4 linked regions of the Homo sapiens genome follow. The protein of the gene in region 1 purifies or fractionates together with the protein of each later gene. This does not show direct contact. Each region holds a gene or a part of one and is shown on either strand. Other genes may lie near its edges.

What was found.
Region 2: the proteins of MAP7 (region 1) and CSE1L purify together in Homo sapiens (affinity purification with mass spectrometry; one large-scale study listed by BioGRID and IntAct). This does not show direct contact.
Region 3: the proteins of MAP7 (region 1) and TNPO1 purify together in Homo sapiens (affinity purification with mass spectrometry; one large-scale study listed by BioGRID and IntAct). This does not show direct contact.
Region 4: the proteins of MAP7 (region 1) and FYTTD1 purify together in Homo sapiens (affinity purification with mass spectrometry; one large-scale study listed by BioGRID and IntAct). This does not show direct contact.

Annotation. Positions count from the first base shown.
Region 1 is NC_000006.12:136,540,168-136,544,156, reverse strand, and holds part of MAP7 (ensconsin), read left to right. Parts: intron 1-3,989. UniProt on the Homo sapiens protein: Microtubule-stabilizing protein that may play an important role during reorganization of microtubules during polarization and differentiation of epithelial cells. Associates with microtubules in a dynamic manner.
Region 2 is NC_000020.11:49,073,812-49,077,559, forward strand, and holds part of CSE1L (exportin-2), read left to right. Parts: intron 1-973; coding exon 974-1,039; intron 1,040-1,506; coding exon 1,507-1,709; intron 1,710-3,168; coding exon 3,169-3,253; intron 3,254-3,748. UniProt on the Homo sapiens protein: Export receptor for importin-alpha. Mediates importin-alpha re-export from the nucleus to the cytoplasm after import substrates (cargos) have been released into the nucleoplasm.
Region 3 is NC_000005.10:72,819,661-72,823,408, forward strand, and holds part of TNPO1 (transportin-1), read left to right. Parts: intron 1-3,748. UniProt on the Homo sapiens protein: Functions in nuclear protein import as nuclear transport receptor. Serves as receptor for nuclear localization signals (NLS) in cargo substrates.
Region 4 is NC_000003.12:197,770,383-197,774,130, forward strand, and holds part of FYTTD1 (UAP56-interacting factor), read left to right. Parts: intron 1-3,020; coding exon 3,021-3,117; intron 3,118-3,748. UniProt on the Homo sapiens protein: Required for mRNA export from the nucleus to the cytoplasm. Acts as an adapter that uses the DDX39B/UAP56-NFX1 pathway to ensure efficient mRNA export and delivering to the nuclear pore.

The sequences.
Region 1 (3,989 bases):
TGAGCTCAGGAGTTCGAGACCAGCCTGGGCAACATGGCAAAGCCCCATCTCTACTGAAAATACAAAAATTAGCCAGGTGTCGTGGCATACATCTGTAATCCGAACTACACAGGAGGCTGAGGCAGGAGAATTGTTTGAACCTGGGAGACGGAGGGTGTAGTGAGCCGAGATGGTAGCACCACATTCCAGCCTGGGCAACAGAGCATGACACCTTCTCGAAAAAAATAATTTGTGTGCAAAAAAAATTACGGATTTTCTTTTATTTTCTTTTTTTAGTTTTGTTGACTGTATAGGTAATGTAAGCACCACCGTTAACATTATCCCAAAGAGTCCTCTGCCTCCAACCTAAATTCCCTAATGCTGCACCTTTGTAGTGAGACTCTCTTCCTACACCTAACCCCTGGCAACCACTGATCTGTTTACCATCTTCCTAGTTTTGCCTTTTCCAGAATGTCATAAAAGTGGAATCATACATTGTGTAACCTTTTTTTCTTTTTTTTTGTGAGACGGAGTTTTACTCTTGTTGCCCAGGCTGGAGTGCAATGGCACAATCTCAGCTCACAGGAACCTCCTCCGCCTCCTGGGTTCAAGCGATTCTCCTGCCTCAGCCTCCCGGATAGCTGTGATTACAGGCATGTGCCACCATGCCCGGCTAATTTTGTATTTTTAGTAGAGATGGGGTTTCTACTAAACCCCATCAGGCTGATCATGAACTCCTGACCAAAGGTGATCCACCCGCCTCAGTATCCCAAAGTGCTGGGATTACAGGCGTGAGCCGCTGCACCCAGCCCCACATTGTGTAACCTTTTGAGTCTGAATTTTTCACCTGGCATCATGTTTTTGAGATTCAGGCACACTGTTGTGCATGTTAGGATGTGGTACATCCTTTTTCTTGATGAAGTAGTTTGCCATTGTATGGAAGTATCACAGATGGTTTATCAAAGAACATTTGAGTTGTTCCCGGGTTTTGGCAATTATGAATAATGCTGCTGTAAACACTTACCTACAGGTTTTTGTGTGAGCATAGTTTTCATCTATTCTGGGTAAATACCTAGGAGTGGGATTGCTGATTCATGTAACTGTATGTTTAACTTTATAAGAAATGGCCAAGCTTTTCCAGAGCAACTCTACGGTTTTACATTCTTACAAACAGTGTATGTGAGTTCTGGTTGCCCTGCATCCTCACTAATACTTAGTATCGTTAGTTTTGTTTGTTTTTAAAACTTTAGCCATTCCACCAAGTTCTTTGAGTAAAGCAATGTAATCACCTCAAAGTAAAATAGTGCCTTTTTAATGCTAACCCATGCTCACATGAATTAGGAAAGCCTGGAGGTGGTGTTGATCCCAGAGCCTAGGTATAATACGGAATTTATATTTGACTCTAATATCTTTATTCTCCTTCATTCTTTTTTCCCCACAGTATTTCTTTTTTTTTTTAATTTTAACACACCATTGCTTGCTTGAAGAGCCATAGTATCTCTTATTTCCTGTGGAGTATGCATTCTGAAGTTGATTATAGACGGAAGTGCCATTATATAGCACATTCCCTGCCAATTCAAGTTCTCTCTTCCTCCTTAATGGTCTCTGTTCTAATCCCTTGAGATATGGCTTTCTAGAACTTGGAAATAACTTGTTTTGTTGTTAGAAAGCTAGACATATTGTTCATATACTTTGTTTATTATCCTGATTAATTCCTTATTGGAACATCTTATATTGTCAAACTGAATACTTACCAGTTCTCAGATACAGTGCTTTGTAAAGCCTTGATAGTCTGTCATTGGACGTTTCATCAGTTGCTCATGGTCTAAGGTTCTGTAAGCTAAATGTGAATGGTATTTAGGCTTATACTTTTTTATAAAATTCAGTTTTAGGGTTTGTCTCGTTCTCTAGCGGTGATGTTGTCTACCTCTTTACTATCTTAGCTCTTGTAAAACTCTGAGTTACGGTTGTTGACACATTTAAATGGCATTTGGATTTTCTCTTCAGTAATTATTATTCTCTTTAGTATCTTTTTAATTTGAGAAATAGCCTGTTGAAAAAGATCTGTAAGATTTTTTTATTAGGTACCACTTTGAAATTTTTTTTAAATATATTTTTTGAGACAGAGTCTCGCTGTGTTGCCCAGGCTGGAGTGCAGTGGCACGAACTTGGCTCACGGTAACCTCTGCCTCCCAGGTTCAAATGATTCTTGTGCCTCAGCCTCCCGAGTAGCCGGGACTACAGGTGCCCACCACCATGCCCAGCTAATTTTTGGATTTTTAGTAGAGAGGGGGTTTTGCCGTGTTGGCCAGGCTTGTCTTGAACTCCTGAGCTCAAGCGATCTGCCCAACTCAGCCTCCTAAAGTGCTGGAATTACAGGTGGGAGCCACCACTCCCGGCTCCACTTTGAATTTTGATTTGAAGAGTAATATATAGTATTTGACACTGAGAAAAACTGCATTCAACTGTTCTTCATCCTTGATGCTCCTATAGAAATAGTTGTGAAAAAAAGAATCATGAGAAAGTGCCAAGGAGGATTGACACACCTGACCAGATGGCACAGAGGAGCACGGGGTATAAAACAATGCAGGGAGGAGGCTGGGAGCAGTGCACTTGGCATATGTGAGCTGCACTTCATAGGCACTGTTAGTAAATGATATATCTTTAAGTTTAGAGTATTGAGATTTGGGGTATCTTAAAATTTCTAATTCTGTGACTTTTAAAATTAAATGATATGTAAGCTTCCTTTTTGGAGTTGGCTTTCTAGTAAAGAGAACTATCCTTCACTATGGCATAACCTCTGAGTATAAAACTCATTTCCCCAACACTGTTGAATGTAGAAAAGTTCTCTAGGATCAGTTTAAATGTCAAGGTGAAGTTCTAGAAAGGAGCCCTTCCTTAGCACCTCCACCCCTCATCATGAAGCCTACTTGGTGGCAATAACATGCATAATAATTGGCTGTAAGATGTGTTCCTGTAGCAAAACTTTTGGCTGCTTCTCAAGATTCGAATCTGGGCTTCTGGTTCTCAGAAGCTCCTGACCCAAGCCTTTGGGGTGGCAGGCGCACCAGACAGGACCTGGTTGCTTACTTCTTGCATTCCAGCTGGACTGGTTTCTATTCATGGTAGATGCTCCAAATTAGTTCAGTGACAACTTCACCACAGGCGTGGTGGGTTCATTTAAATATGGGTCACTCCTTGACCCCAAGGTTATGTTGTTGAAATGATTATTGCGCCCATGTGCTGGAGTATCATTGATTCACATCATTGGCTCTCAATCTTGGCAGTGATTAAAAATCACCTGGGGACCATTTAAATATCAGGATGCCCAGGTGGCATCCAAGGTAATTATCTGAGAATCTTGCAGGATGGGAGTCAGGTGGCAGTGTTTTTAAAATTCCCCAGATGGTCTGGTGTGCAATCAGTGCTGAGAACTAATGATTCAGAACCATTTCCTATTGTATTCCCTTCCATTTGACTATTGTGGTGTGTGGTGTCAAGTGTGTGCACCTTGCTTATGGAAACCACATGGAAAATCGTAATAGCAATTGCCCTAAGTCTAGTGAGTTTACTCAGGTTGTCTCTTATTTTGCCCCAGGACTTTTTTGAAGGAAATATAGATGTGAATACAGTTATGAGTACAATTGAATAGCTAAGTATGCACACATATACTCAGTGTCCACATGTACGCACATTTCTGTATGAATATGTGCAGTGAGACAAAATACCATTCAGCTTTTGTTTTGACTTTGCCTAGCTCCTACACTGCCTTCCTCTCCCTCCTGCCCCTTAAAACCAGGAAAGGTTAAATTGGGGTAGATATTAAAGTATTTTGTAGAAAATTACATACTTTTCCCAGAGATCTTTCTAGTGACCCCTGACCTCTGATCACCAGGTCCCTGGCTCTGGAGACTGGACCTTGTTTCTTCTGTCTATAAATAGTTGACCCAAGTACGACCTTTTCCCTTCCGTGTGACCAGATGCTAATACCCTTCAGGCTAATCTTTCTT
Region 2 (3,748 bases), on another chromosome or scaffold:
TATTAGATCAGTGGTTTTCAAATTACATCTGGAACAAAATAAGGAAATTAAGGACAATATAGCGTGAGATTTTATTTCCTGTTGTGTTTTCATAAAAATATGTTTAAAGGATAAATCTTCTGGCTGGGTGTGGTGGCCCATACCTTTAATCCCAACACTTTGGGAGGCTGAGGTGGGAGGAACACTTGAGCCCAGGAGTTAAAGACCAGCCTGGCCAAAATGGCAAAACCTTATCTCTACAATAAATAAATTAGTTGGGTATGGTGGCATGGGCCTGTGGTCCCAGGTACTCAAGCAGCTTAGGTGGGAGTTTTGCTTGAGCTCAGGAGGTGGAGGCTGCAGTGAGACATGATCATACAACTGCAGTGTGTGTGTGTGTGTGTGTGTGTGTGTGTGTGTGTGTGTGTAGACTTTTTTTTTTTTTTAATTTATATGATAAAAATAGAGATGAGATCTCGCTGTGTTGACCAGGCTGGTCTCAAACTCCTGGGCTCAAGCGATCCTCCCATTTCAGCCTCCCAAAGTGCTAGGTTACACGCGTGAGCCACCATGCCGGCCATTTCTGACATTGTCCACTCTACTTATTTGTTGTTGAAATGACTTTAATGAAATAATAGTGATTAAAATTAGGTTGTTGGTATTTTAATGTTCTTATTTGGTGAAATTAAAAGTTAGCATTCTGATACTGATCCCTAACATTTTTGACAGTTGCAGGTATAATCCAATTCTGGGGAAACTGTCACATTAGAACAAGTGAGCCTATCTCATAGTTGTGTGAATTACCTAATACCTCACCTTTCAGGGTAGCATTTGCTGCTCTAGATAATGATTAAGAGTATATGAAGTAGTCATCTGATGGGAACGAATTCTTTGCTGTAGAACAAGGCAGTTTTACATACTCTTCTGCATTCTCAGCTGTAAAGTACAGTGACGTCTTTTGGAGTGTTATCTGAAATATCATCTCTCCTTGTAGCTGCTGATGAAGAAGCATTTGAAGATAATTCTGAGGAGTACATAAGGAGAGATTTGGAAGGATCTGGTGTGTATCTTGGTTTTTTAGTTACTAGTCTCTTAGCAAGCCAGTTTTAAGGTGGTTCTCTTTCTAGTAAATGGGAGAAGTGGGATTGAGAATAAGAGTGTTTTTTCAGCGGGCTTTCATTGAGAACTGTTGTCTTTCTTCAACTTGTCTTAAAAAGCTCTTATATGACCTGAATGAAAATATCAAAAGTTGAATCATTTGTCTGTTCTTACATAGTATTTATCAAAATTCTGTGATTCTGTGACCTCTTTAGTTTCATTTTGATTTTGTATTTCTTGGGGGCGGGAATGTTTTTTTCATTGTTTGTGTTGCTGATAGCTATTGGGTGGCCCTTTGTTTTTCGTTCTTTTTTTTCCGTTTTACAATCGTAGCCAAATTATTCCAGGCAATTTGTTTTCTTATAAATTGGATCAGCTTGTTGGTGGTTGTTTTTTTTCCCCATAATATATTTTCTTTTCATTTCATAGATATTGATACTAGACGCAGGGCTGCTTGTGATCTGGTACGAGGATTATGCAAGTTTTTTGAGGGACCTGTGACAGGAATCTTCTCTGGTTATGTTAATTCCATGCTGCAGGAATACGCAAAAAATCCATCTGTCAACTGGAAACACAAAGATGCAGCCATCTACCTAGTGACATCTTTGGCATCAAAAGCCCAAACACAGAAGGTAAATATTTTTAATGTGGTTTTGTTTCTAAAACAGACATCAGTGACACCCACACAAGTCAAAAAGAAATAACGTCTCTGATAATAGAGCTTACTCTGCCAGATAACCTATTCTGATTAAGATTTATATAATCTCTGAAGATGGCTTTATGTTGATGTATTGAGCACTTAAGTTTCTTATAGACCAGAAAATTGATAGATGGCCACACTTGTTACCTTAGCTGAGACCCGCTGTATCAAATATGCTTAACTTAAACTTAGCTGTTCTTTAATTGAGGAAAGTTTCTTTATTGTCTATTAGTATAGTCTTATTTTACATTTTTATATTTTTGAGATGGAGTCTCACTTTGTCACCAGGCTGGAGTGCAATGGCGTGATCTCAGCTCACTGCAACCTCCACCTCCCGAGTTCGAGCGACTCTCCTGCCTCAGCGTCCCAAGTAACTGGGATTACAAGTGTGCACTACCACACCTGGCTAATTTTTGTATTTTTAGTAGAGACAAGGTTTCACCATATTGGTCAGGATGGTCTCAAATTCCTGACCTCGTGTGATCCTCACACCTCAGCCTCCCAGAGTGCTGGGATACAGGTGTGAGTCACCGTGCCTAGACAGTATAGTCTTATTTTATATTTTATACATAAGCAGGTTGTGTTTTGTTGTTGTTGTTTTGTTTTGTTTTGTTTTGAGACGGAGTTTCGCTCTTGTTGCCCAGGCTGGAGTGCAATGGCACGATCTTGGCTCACCGCAACCTCCGTTTGCCGGGTTCAAGTGATTCTCCTGCCTCAGCCTCCCGAGTAGCTGGGATTACAGGCATGCGCCACCACCCTGGCTAATTTTGTATTTGTAGTAGAGATGGGGTTTCTCCATGTTGGTCAGGCTGTTCTTGAACTCCTGACCTCAGGTGATCCACCTGCCTTGGCCTCCCAAAGTGCTGGGATTACAAGCATGAGCCACCATGCCTAGCCTAAGCAGTTCATGTTTTGAAGTGTCCCTCTCTCTCTTTTTTTTTTTTTTTTTTTTTTTTTTTGAGACGTTGTCTTGCTCTGTCATCCAGGCTGGAATGCAATGGCAACATCTCAGATTACTGCAACCTCTGCCTCCCGGGTTCAAGCAATTCTCATGCCTCAGCCTCCCGAGTAGCTAGAATTACAGGTGCATGCAACTACACCTGGCTAATTTTTTGTGTTTTTAGTAGAGACGGGGTTTTGCCATGTTGGCCAGGCTAGTCTTGAACTCCTGACTTCAAGTGATCTACCCGCCTCGGCCTCCCAAAGTGCTGGGATTACAGCCGTGAGCTCCTGTACACAGCCAGTACAGTCTCATTTTATACATAAGCAATTTGTATTTTGAAGTGTTCATCTCCATTTTAACATGGTTTTCTAAAATTGCCTGAATTTCTAATGTGATAGATATATACAGGTATTTTGTTATTTTACTATGTTATGAATTTGCTTTTCAGCATGGAATTACACAAGCAAATGAACTTGTAAACCTAACTGAGTTCTTTGTGAATCACATCCTCCCTGATTTAAAATCAGCTAATGGTGAGTTGTGAAATTCTTGCTTTTTTTACAGCTTGCCACACTATACCTGAATTCAAAAAACAGCTTCCTATCCTTGTTCCCTTTTGTTCTTTTTTTTTTTTTTTTTTTCTTTTGAGATGGTGTCTTACTCTGTTACCCAGGCTGGAGTGCAGTGGCACAGTCTCTGCTCACTGCAACTCCTGCCTCCTGGGTTCAAGCGATTCTCCTGCCTCAGCTTCCCAAGCAGCTGGGACTACAGGCACGTACCACCATGCCCGGCTAATTTTTGTATTTTTAGTAGAGACGGGGTTTCCCCATGTTGGCCAGGCTGGTCTCAAACTCCTGACCTCAGGTGATCCACCTGCGTCGGCCTGCCAAAGTGCTGGGATTGCAGGCGTGAGCCTCCATGCCCTGCCTATTATTTCTTTTATTGAATAAAATCTCAAATGGTTTCCCCAGATCTTGTCCATGTGAAATTAATTATTGATAAAGAAAATATTGCTTGATTAGGAGGAA
Region 3 (3,748 bases), on another chromosome or scaffold:
TAAAGTTGGGATTGATATATGCCTTTTTAATGGTTAAATTTTTAAAACAAAGCAAAACTTTTCAATGTAGTGTAGAGAACAGGCGCTTTGGAGCCACACTATTTGGATTCAGATTTTGGCACCTTCTGTAATTATCTGTGTGACCTTGGGCAAGTTATTTAATCTCACTTTTTCATCTTATGTTATGAGGATTAAATGAGTTAATACACTAAGCTCTTAAAACTGGGCCTGACATGTATTAACTTTTCTATAAATAATAACTGCTGTTATCATCAATGTCATTATCACTGTTAATTATTTCAGAAAACTATAGAAAACCATAAAATAAAAATTACAAATATCAGTACTACGTAGTAACTACTGTAAGCCCTTTTGCGCATTTCCTTCCAATGTTTTTTTCTGAGTTTATTGGATTTTTTTCACAGTTGAGACTTTACTATGTGAGTAATTTTGTATTCTCACCATAAGCATTTTCTTATGCTACTTAATTATTTTGTCACCATATTTAATGTTTGCATGTTTGTGTGGATTTCTCATTATTAAACAGTTTCTAATTTTTTTGCAGTTATAAGAAACACTGCAATGAACATCCTCATACAAAAATCAATTTCTGCATTCTGGATTATTTAGAGTCCCCAAAGCAAAAATACTGAGTCAAAGTAAACATCCAAAGCTCATGGTCCATACTGCAAATTGCTTTTACTTAAGGGAATTTAATAATGAACTTATTAATATAATAAATTGAGACTACACAGTATTGTTCCTGTTGCTTTGGGATTGGAGGAATAGAGAGTGGATTAACGTTTTCCTTGTAATGTACTAGACATCATTTGTAGGCATTTAACATACATTGTCACTTTCATGTACATTTTTCTCATTTATTATGTTGGCTCTGTGTTATACATGGAAGTTACTTCTATTTTACTGATGAGAAAACAAAGTGTAAATAGGTAAGTACTTTGTCCAAGGGCTCAGAGCGTTCGAGCCTGAATCTGAATCTAGATCTGCTTGACTGCAAAGCTCATCATGCTGTTTTATTTGTATACTTTTATATCATATACATATTCAGAATTTTATACTATAACTAACTATAGATCACAGACCACATTTTTAAGATAGCTAAACTGAGCTGGGAATAATGAATGGGTAAGTTGCAAAGTTAAACAAGACAGGGCTTAACTTTCCACATTTTAGAAAAAGAAAATCTTTACCTGGATGAGATATAATTGGTAACAACTATATAAAACCGGGTTCTAAAGTGAATGCACCAAATATCTGTGGGTGCAATTCTTAATGATCTTAACACAAATAGGTGAGAGAAAACCAAAGAAATCTCAAATTTGATTAAATTTGGGGAATAAGAGAAATGAAAAGGCCCGTAAGTGCTAAAATTGAAATATACGTTTAGTAAAACTCCTGGTAAAGTAAATGAAGGTTTTACTGGGGAAACAAGCAAAAAAATATGTGTTTCACATAAGGAGAATAGAACTGCCTACAAGGTGTAGGAAGTTAAATTTATACTGAAAATTAGAGAAAAATTCATATTTGAGTTGCATTTTATAGATGACTCCGAAGCCATTAGTAAAATAATTTATTAGTGGAGCCCCTTTATCCTAGATGCATATGTTTCTACCACAAATGAAAAAGTTAATGCTAGGAAGGATAAGATTCCACCACTTTTGTTTTTACTAAGAAAGGAATTAAGGAAGAGAAGTATTTCAGCAAATCATGAATATACTAAATAAATGCAAATAAATTATTAGGAATAGGTGGTATCCAACAAGATTTTAAAGATAAGAATATAAAAGTACAGAACTATTGATTATTATGCTACCATTTGAAATTGTGTTTTTGAAAAATATTTAATGAAATTAAATATATATTTTGACTGGAGCATAGCAGAACTAGGAAATGATGAGAGAGCTAGCAAACCATGAAGGACTTTTGTGCCATTTATTAGTGCTGGGATTATCTCTTGTCGAGAGATTTACATACTAGTGGAGAAAGAGATATGTAAATAAACAAGTTCAATAAGTGTATTTACAGCTTTTGTGATATAAATCTGTAAAAACACCAAGAAAGGCCAGTAATAGATTCGTTGAATAGATTAGGGGGAATGTCTGGAGCATTTTGGGAACTAGGAACAGCATTTCAGTGAGTGTGTCAGTAAACATAAAGATCTGCTGTGTTCTTGGAACTCTTAAGCGGTTCAGGGGCCCTGAAAGGTATATAGCAGGGGTCCACAAACTTTCTGTAAAGGGCCAGGTAGCAAATATTTTCTGCTTTGTGGGCCATACCATCTCTACCACTGTAGTGCAAAAACAGTTATGAAACCAATGGTATGGCCAGATTTGACTAAGGTCTTAATTAGACAAACTCTAATATATAGTAGAGAGGGATGTTGAAGAGAGAGAACCTACTGAGCCTTATGTCACCCTATCATGAGCCATTGAAAGATATGAAACGAATCTAGAAGATTGATTTGTATGAATCATTAAGAGCAGAATAAAATAGATTTTTAAAGCACTCTACATCGATTTAAAAGGGAAAACAACTCAGTTTTTTAAGTGGGCAAGTTCCACAGAAGAGGAAATATGGCTAGCAGGTAAACATGGAATAATGATTTACCTCACCAGCAGAAAAATGCAAAGTAAAGCAGTGACTTTTTTTTTTTTCTCATTATACTGGCCAAAGAGAAAAAAGTTTTGTTAGTATGTATTGAGAAGGTTGTAGGGATAACATTGAATATATCGGTACGGCTATTTTAAAGTAAAAATATCTTTGACCCAGCAGTTTCCATTTCTTAGAGAAACACGTGAGTATATCAGGAGTCATGTGTGCTAGGATTAGTCCTTGTTAGTAACCACAGAAACTCCAGACTTCCTGTTCACATTTTGTCTCTGGCATTCCATTCATAAAAAGTTCTACACTTTTTTTTTTTTTTTTTTTGGAGATGGAGTCTCGCTCTGTTGCCCAGGCTGGAGTGCAGTGGCATGATTTCGGCTCACTGCAACCTCTGCCTCCTGGGTTCAAGCAATTCTCCTGCCTCAGCCTCCCGAGTAGCTGGTACTACAGGCACACATCGCCATGCCCAGCTGATTTTTTGTATTTTAGTAGAGATGGGGTTTCACTGTGCTGTGCAGGCGTGTCTCCAACTTCTGACCTCAGGCAATCCGCCCACCTTGGCTTCCCAAAGTGCTGGGATTACAGGTGTGAGCCACTGCGCCCGGCCTGGCCTGGGTCTACACTTTTTTTTTTTTTTTTTTTTTTTTGGAGACACAGTCTAGCTCTCTTGTCCAGGCTGGAGTGGGGTCTATGCTTTTTCTTAAACCTCTTCTCAACTTTTCATACCCTTCTACTGTACTTTGTGAAATTAACTATCCATCATCTGCAAAATCCAGTCTGAACCATTCTTAGATGTTGCTTTCACTTTCTTGCTGTAATGGAAACCGGACTCTCTTCCACTGTGCAGTTGTGGCTGTTTTTGTTTGTTTGCTCCGTAACTTTCCTCCCACTGTTTCTAGAGGTGGGAAAGATATCTGTCATGAGTCTTCTTACTTCTTTCAGACTATGCTTCCTCCTTTCTCCCTATAATCTTCAGTTTTGAATTATGTCATAAAGGCCCACTGTCCCACTCTCCAGTCTTTATATTGAAATTGATAAGAATGTACATAACTGATCCACCCAAACCCTGGCCTCTCACTTCCTAGACCTCTCTTCCAGTGCTCTTCCCATCTATGCTATATCA
Region 4 (3,748 bases), on another chromosome or scaffold:
CATCCACATGGATGTATCCAGTAATAGCTTGTTTATTAGATGAATTCTTACTGATGAAGTTAACCGATATAAGCTTTTTAAAAAGCATCACTCTGCTTCTTTACCTCTTTGACATATGGAATAAAATTGCAAAAGCTGATCACTTTAGTAGAACTCTCTTTTTTTTCTCCCTGTTTTTTGAGACAGGGCTTCTCGATCTGTTGCTGAGGCTGGAGTGCAGTGGCGCCATCACTGCTCCCTGGAGCCTTGGCCTGCCCTGGGCTCAAGCGATCCTCCCACATCAGCCTCCTGAGTAGCTGGGACTGCAGATACATGCCACCATGCCCTGCTAATTTTTTTTTTTTTTTAATAGAGACAGGGTCTCACCATGTTGTCCAGGCTGGTCTCAATTCCTGGCCTCAAGTGATCCTCCCACCTCAGCCTCCTAAAGTGCTGGGATTACGGGCATGCGCCCCTGTGCCCAGCCCTGGTAGAACTCTTAACATCTTAGTGGGAATTATTCAAAATTGAGAATTCTGAAATCTCAATTTGTTACTCAGTCTGGATGGCTCTTACTAGAACACTGAATCACAATGTATGTTATTTGTGGAAAAATCAAACTAGAAAGGGAGAATTCTTCATGAACACTTGTTAAACTGAAATTATTTTTATACTAAATTGAATAATAAAAACCAAAAATTATGGCCTGTGAGCTGGGTGCAGTGGCATGTGCCTGTGGTCCCAGCTACTTACGAGGCTGAGGCAGGAGGATCACATGAGCCCAGGATTCAGGGCTAACCTGCTGGGCAACATAGTGAGACCCCCATCTCTGAAAAAGAAAGAAAAGAAAAATTATGATCTGTTGTTATGGCATTCTGTTCTCTGTAAGGACAAAGTAGATGAAGTTGATGAGGTGTGAAGTTTCCTTATTCAGTTTCAAGTATTATTTATTTATCTTTCGTGGAAGATAAGTCAGCAAAAAAAACCTGGAATGAGGTTTTTAAAAAATGCAGTGGCTGGGCACAGTGGCTCATGCCTGTATTCCCAGCACTTTGGGGGGCTAAAGCAGGCAGATCACCTGAGGTCAGGAGTTATGTGGCAAAACCCCATCTCTACTGAAAATGCAAAAATTAGGCCGGGTGCGGTGGCTCACGCCTGTAATCCCAGCACTTTGGGAGGCCGAGGCGGGCGGATCACGAGGTCAGGAGATCGAGACCATCCCGGCTAAAAACGGTGAAACCCCGTCTCTACTAAAAATACAAAAAATTAGCCGGGCGTGGTGGCGGGCGCCTGTAGTCCCAGCTACTTGGGAGGCTGAGGCAGGAGAATGGCGTGAACCCGGGAGGCGGAGCTTGCAGTGAGCCGAGATCCCGCCACTGCACTCCAGCCTGGGCGACAGAGCGAGACTCCGTCTCAAAAAAAAAAAAAAAAAAAAATGCAAAAATTAGCCCGATGTGGTGACCGGTGCATGCCAGCAATCCCAGCACTTTGGGAGGCCGCTGCGTGTGGATCACCTGAGGCCAGGAGTTCGAGACCAGCCTGGCCAACATGGTGAAACCCCATCTCTACTAAAAATACAAAAATTAGCTGGACGTGGTGGTTCATGCCTGTAGTTCCAGCTATTTGGGAGGCTGAGGCAGGAGAATCGCTTAAACCTGGGGGGCGGAAGTTGCAGTGAGTCAAGATGGTGCCACTGCACTCCAGCCTGGGTGACAGTGAGACTCTGTCTCAAAAAAATAAAAATAAAAAAACAAAAAATGGAATGGCTGGAATTGCAGTTTTAACCATCATCTTTTGGGAATCACTTGATAGTACCTTTTGTGAAAGGGGACCTTCTCAAATAAGAACCCATCATTTACGTGAGACTTACATGTTAATTGGGTTAGCTAGGGCAGTTTTGAACTTGAATCTCTGAAAGATTGGAGGTAAGACTAGGGAATCTGTTAAACACTCGTTTATATAGTGTTTCATATTTATCAATACATCAGTTGAAGACATGGAATGTTAGAGGATTGAATATTTCATAGATAAATATGAAATTTTAATTTTTCGTACTTCACTAACTTCCTATAGAAAACAAAAGAAATTAGGTGCCGCAAACCACCATGGCACATGTATAGCTACATAAGAAACTTGCACGTTCAGCACGTGTCTCAGAACTTAAAATTAAAAAAAAGAATTGGTGACAGTCATAATTAAGAGCATTGTTCTGTGCATGAAAGAACAAGAAATAGAAGAGTATAAGTTTTTCTGTGGTTTGTATATTTTTTGAGATGAAGTCTGTGTCGCTGGGCTGGAGTGCAGTGGCGTGATCTCGGCCCACAGCAACCTCTGCTTCCCTGATTGAAGCAATTCTCATGCTTCAGCCTCCTGAGTAGCTGGGACTACAGGCGTGTGCCACCAAGGCTGGCTAATTTTTGTGTTTTTAGTAGAGACGGGGTTTTACCATGTTACCCAGGCTGGTCTCAAACTCCTGACCTCAAGTGATCCACTCACCTCAACCTCCCAAAGTGCTGGGATTACAGGTGTGAGCCATAATGCCTGGCCTCTATGGTTTATGTTAATACATAATGGTTTCTGAGTGAGGAAGGAAGAGAAAGCTGGAGGAGGAGATGTTATTTTTCAAACCTTTCTCTTTATTTTTGGTCTTCAGTTTATTTTACGTCTTCAGTTTGGCCTATGTGTGGTTTTTCTTTGTACTAATCCTATAAATTGTAAAGTTATGTTTTCACCAAATATAGGAAATAGCACTAAAAATGTGATTATTAATGTCTTCAGAAGATATATGGGATATTAGAGGATTGAATATTTGGAAGATAAAGTGGTTTGAAATTAACACGTGGTTATGTGCTATGCTTCGGAGGGAGGTATTTGTTAATCAAATCTCAGTAGCTTCATGTTAATAAGCAAATAATTCAGAGTTGTTTGTTTCTTGCACCTCATGTTTGCAGCCTATGAATTTAACTATTTTTGCTTATTTTTCCTCAAGATGTTTGAAAGTAGTTAAATGGCTTAGCATGGCCTATGTGTTTTTGTTGCAGAAATAACATTCCAGCTAATTTTACCAGGAGTGGAAATAAATTAAATCATCAGAAAGATACTCGTCAGGCAACTTTTCTTTTCAGAAGAGGCCTGAAGGTATTTAAAAACTTTGGCAGTGTTTTTGTTTGTTTGTTTGTTTTTTCCCAAAGAGGATCCTGAGCAGCCACCTTTAGTAAGCCTCAGTCATAGGCAGCATTGGGTTCAGGATGTGAGGCACGTGGTAGTAGATTAGTTCTTCCTGTTGTATGTTTTTTATTTCCCATCTTTTCTTACCCTCAATAGCAATGTCTTATAAGAATTTAACTCGTTATTTGGGAATAAACCTGTATTTGCCACTCGTTCTCATGTAGGAATTCCAACAGGGAACTGTTGCCAGAATAGCGTGGGCCCCTCTGCTGCACTCACGCACACACCCCACTGGGTTAGGAAGTTCTAGAATAGCACGGGCCCCTCCGCTGCACTCACGCACACGCCCCACTGGGTTAGGAAGTTCTAGAATAGCGCGGGCCCCTCCGCAGCACTCACGCACACGCCCCACTGGGTTAGGAATTTCTAGAATAGCGCGGGCCCCTCCGCTGCACTCACGCACACGCCCCACTGGGTTAGGAAGTTGTAGAATAGCGCAGGCACCTCCGCTGCACTCATGTACACGCACCACTGGGTTAGGAAGTTCCAGAGCAGGATCGCTCTTTGGATTCAAATCCTCTGCTTTCTGTGGTACCTACTG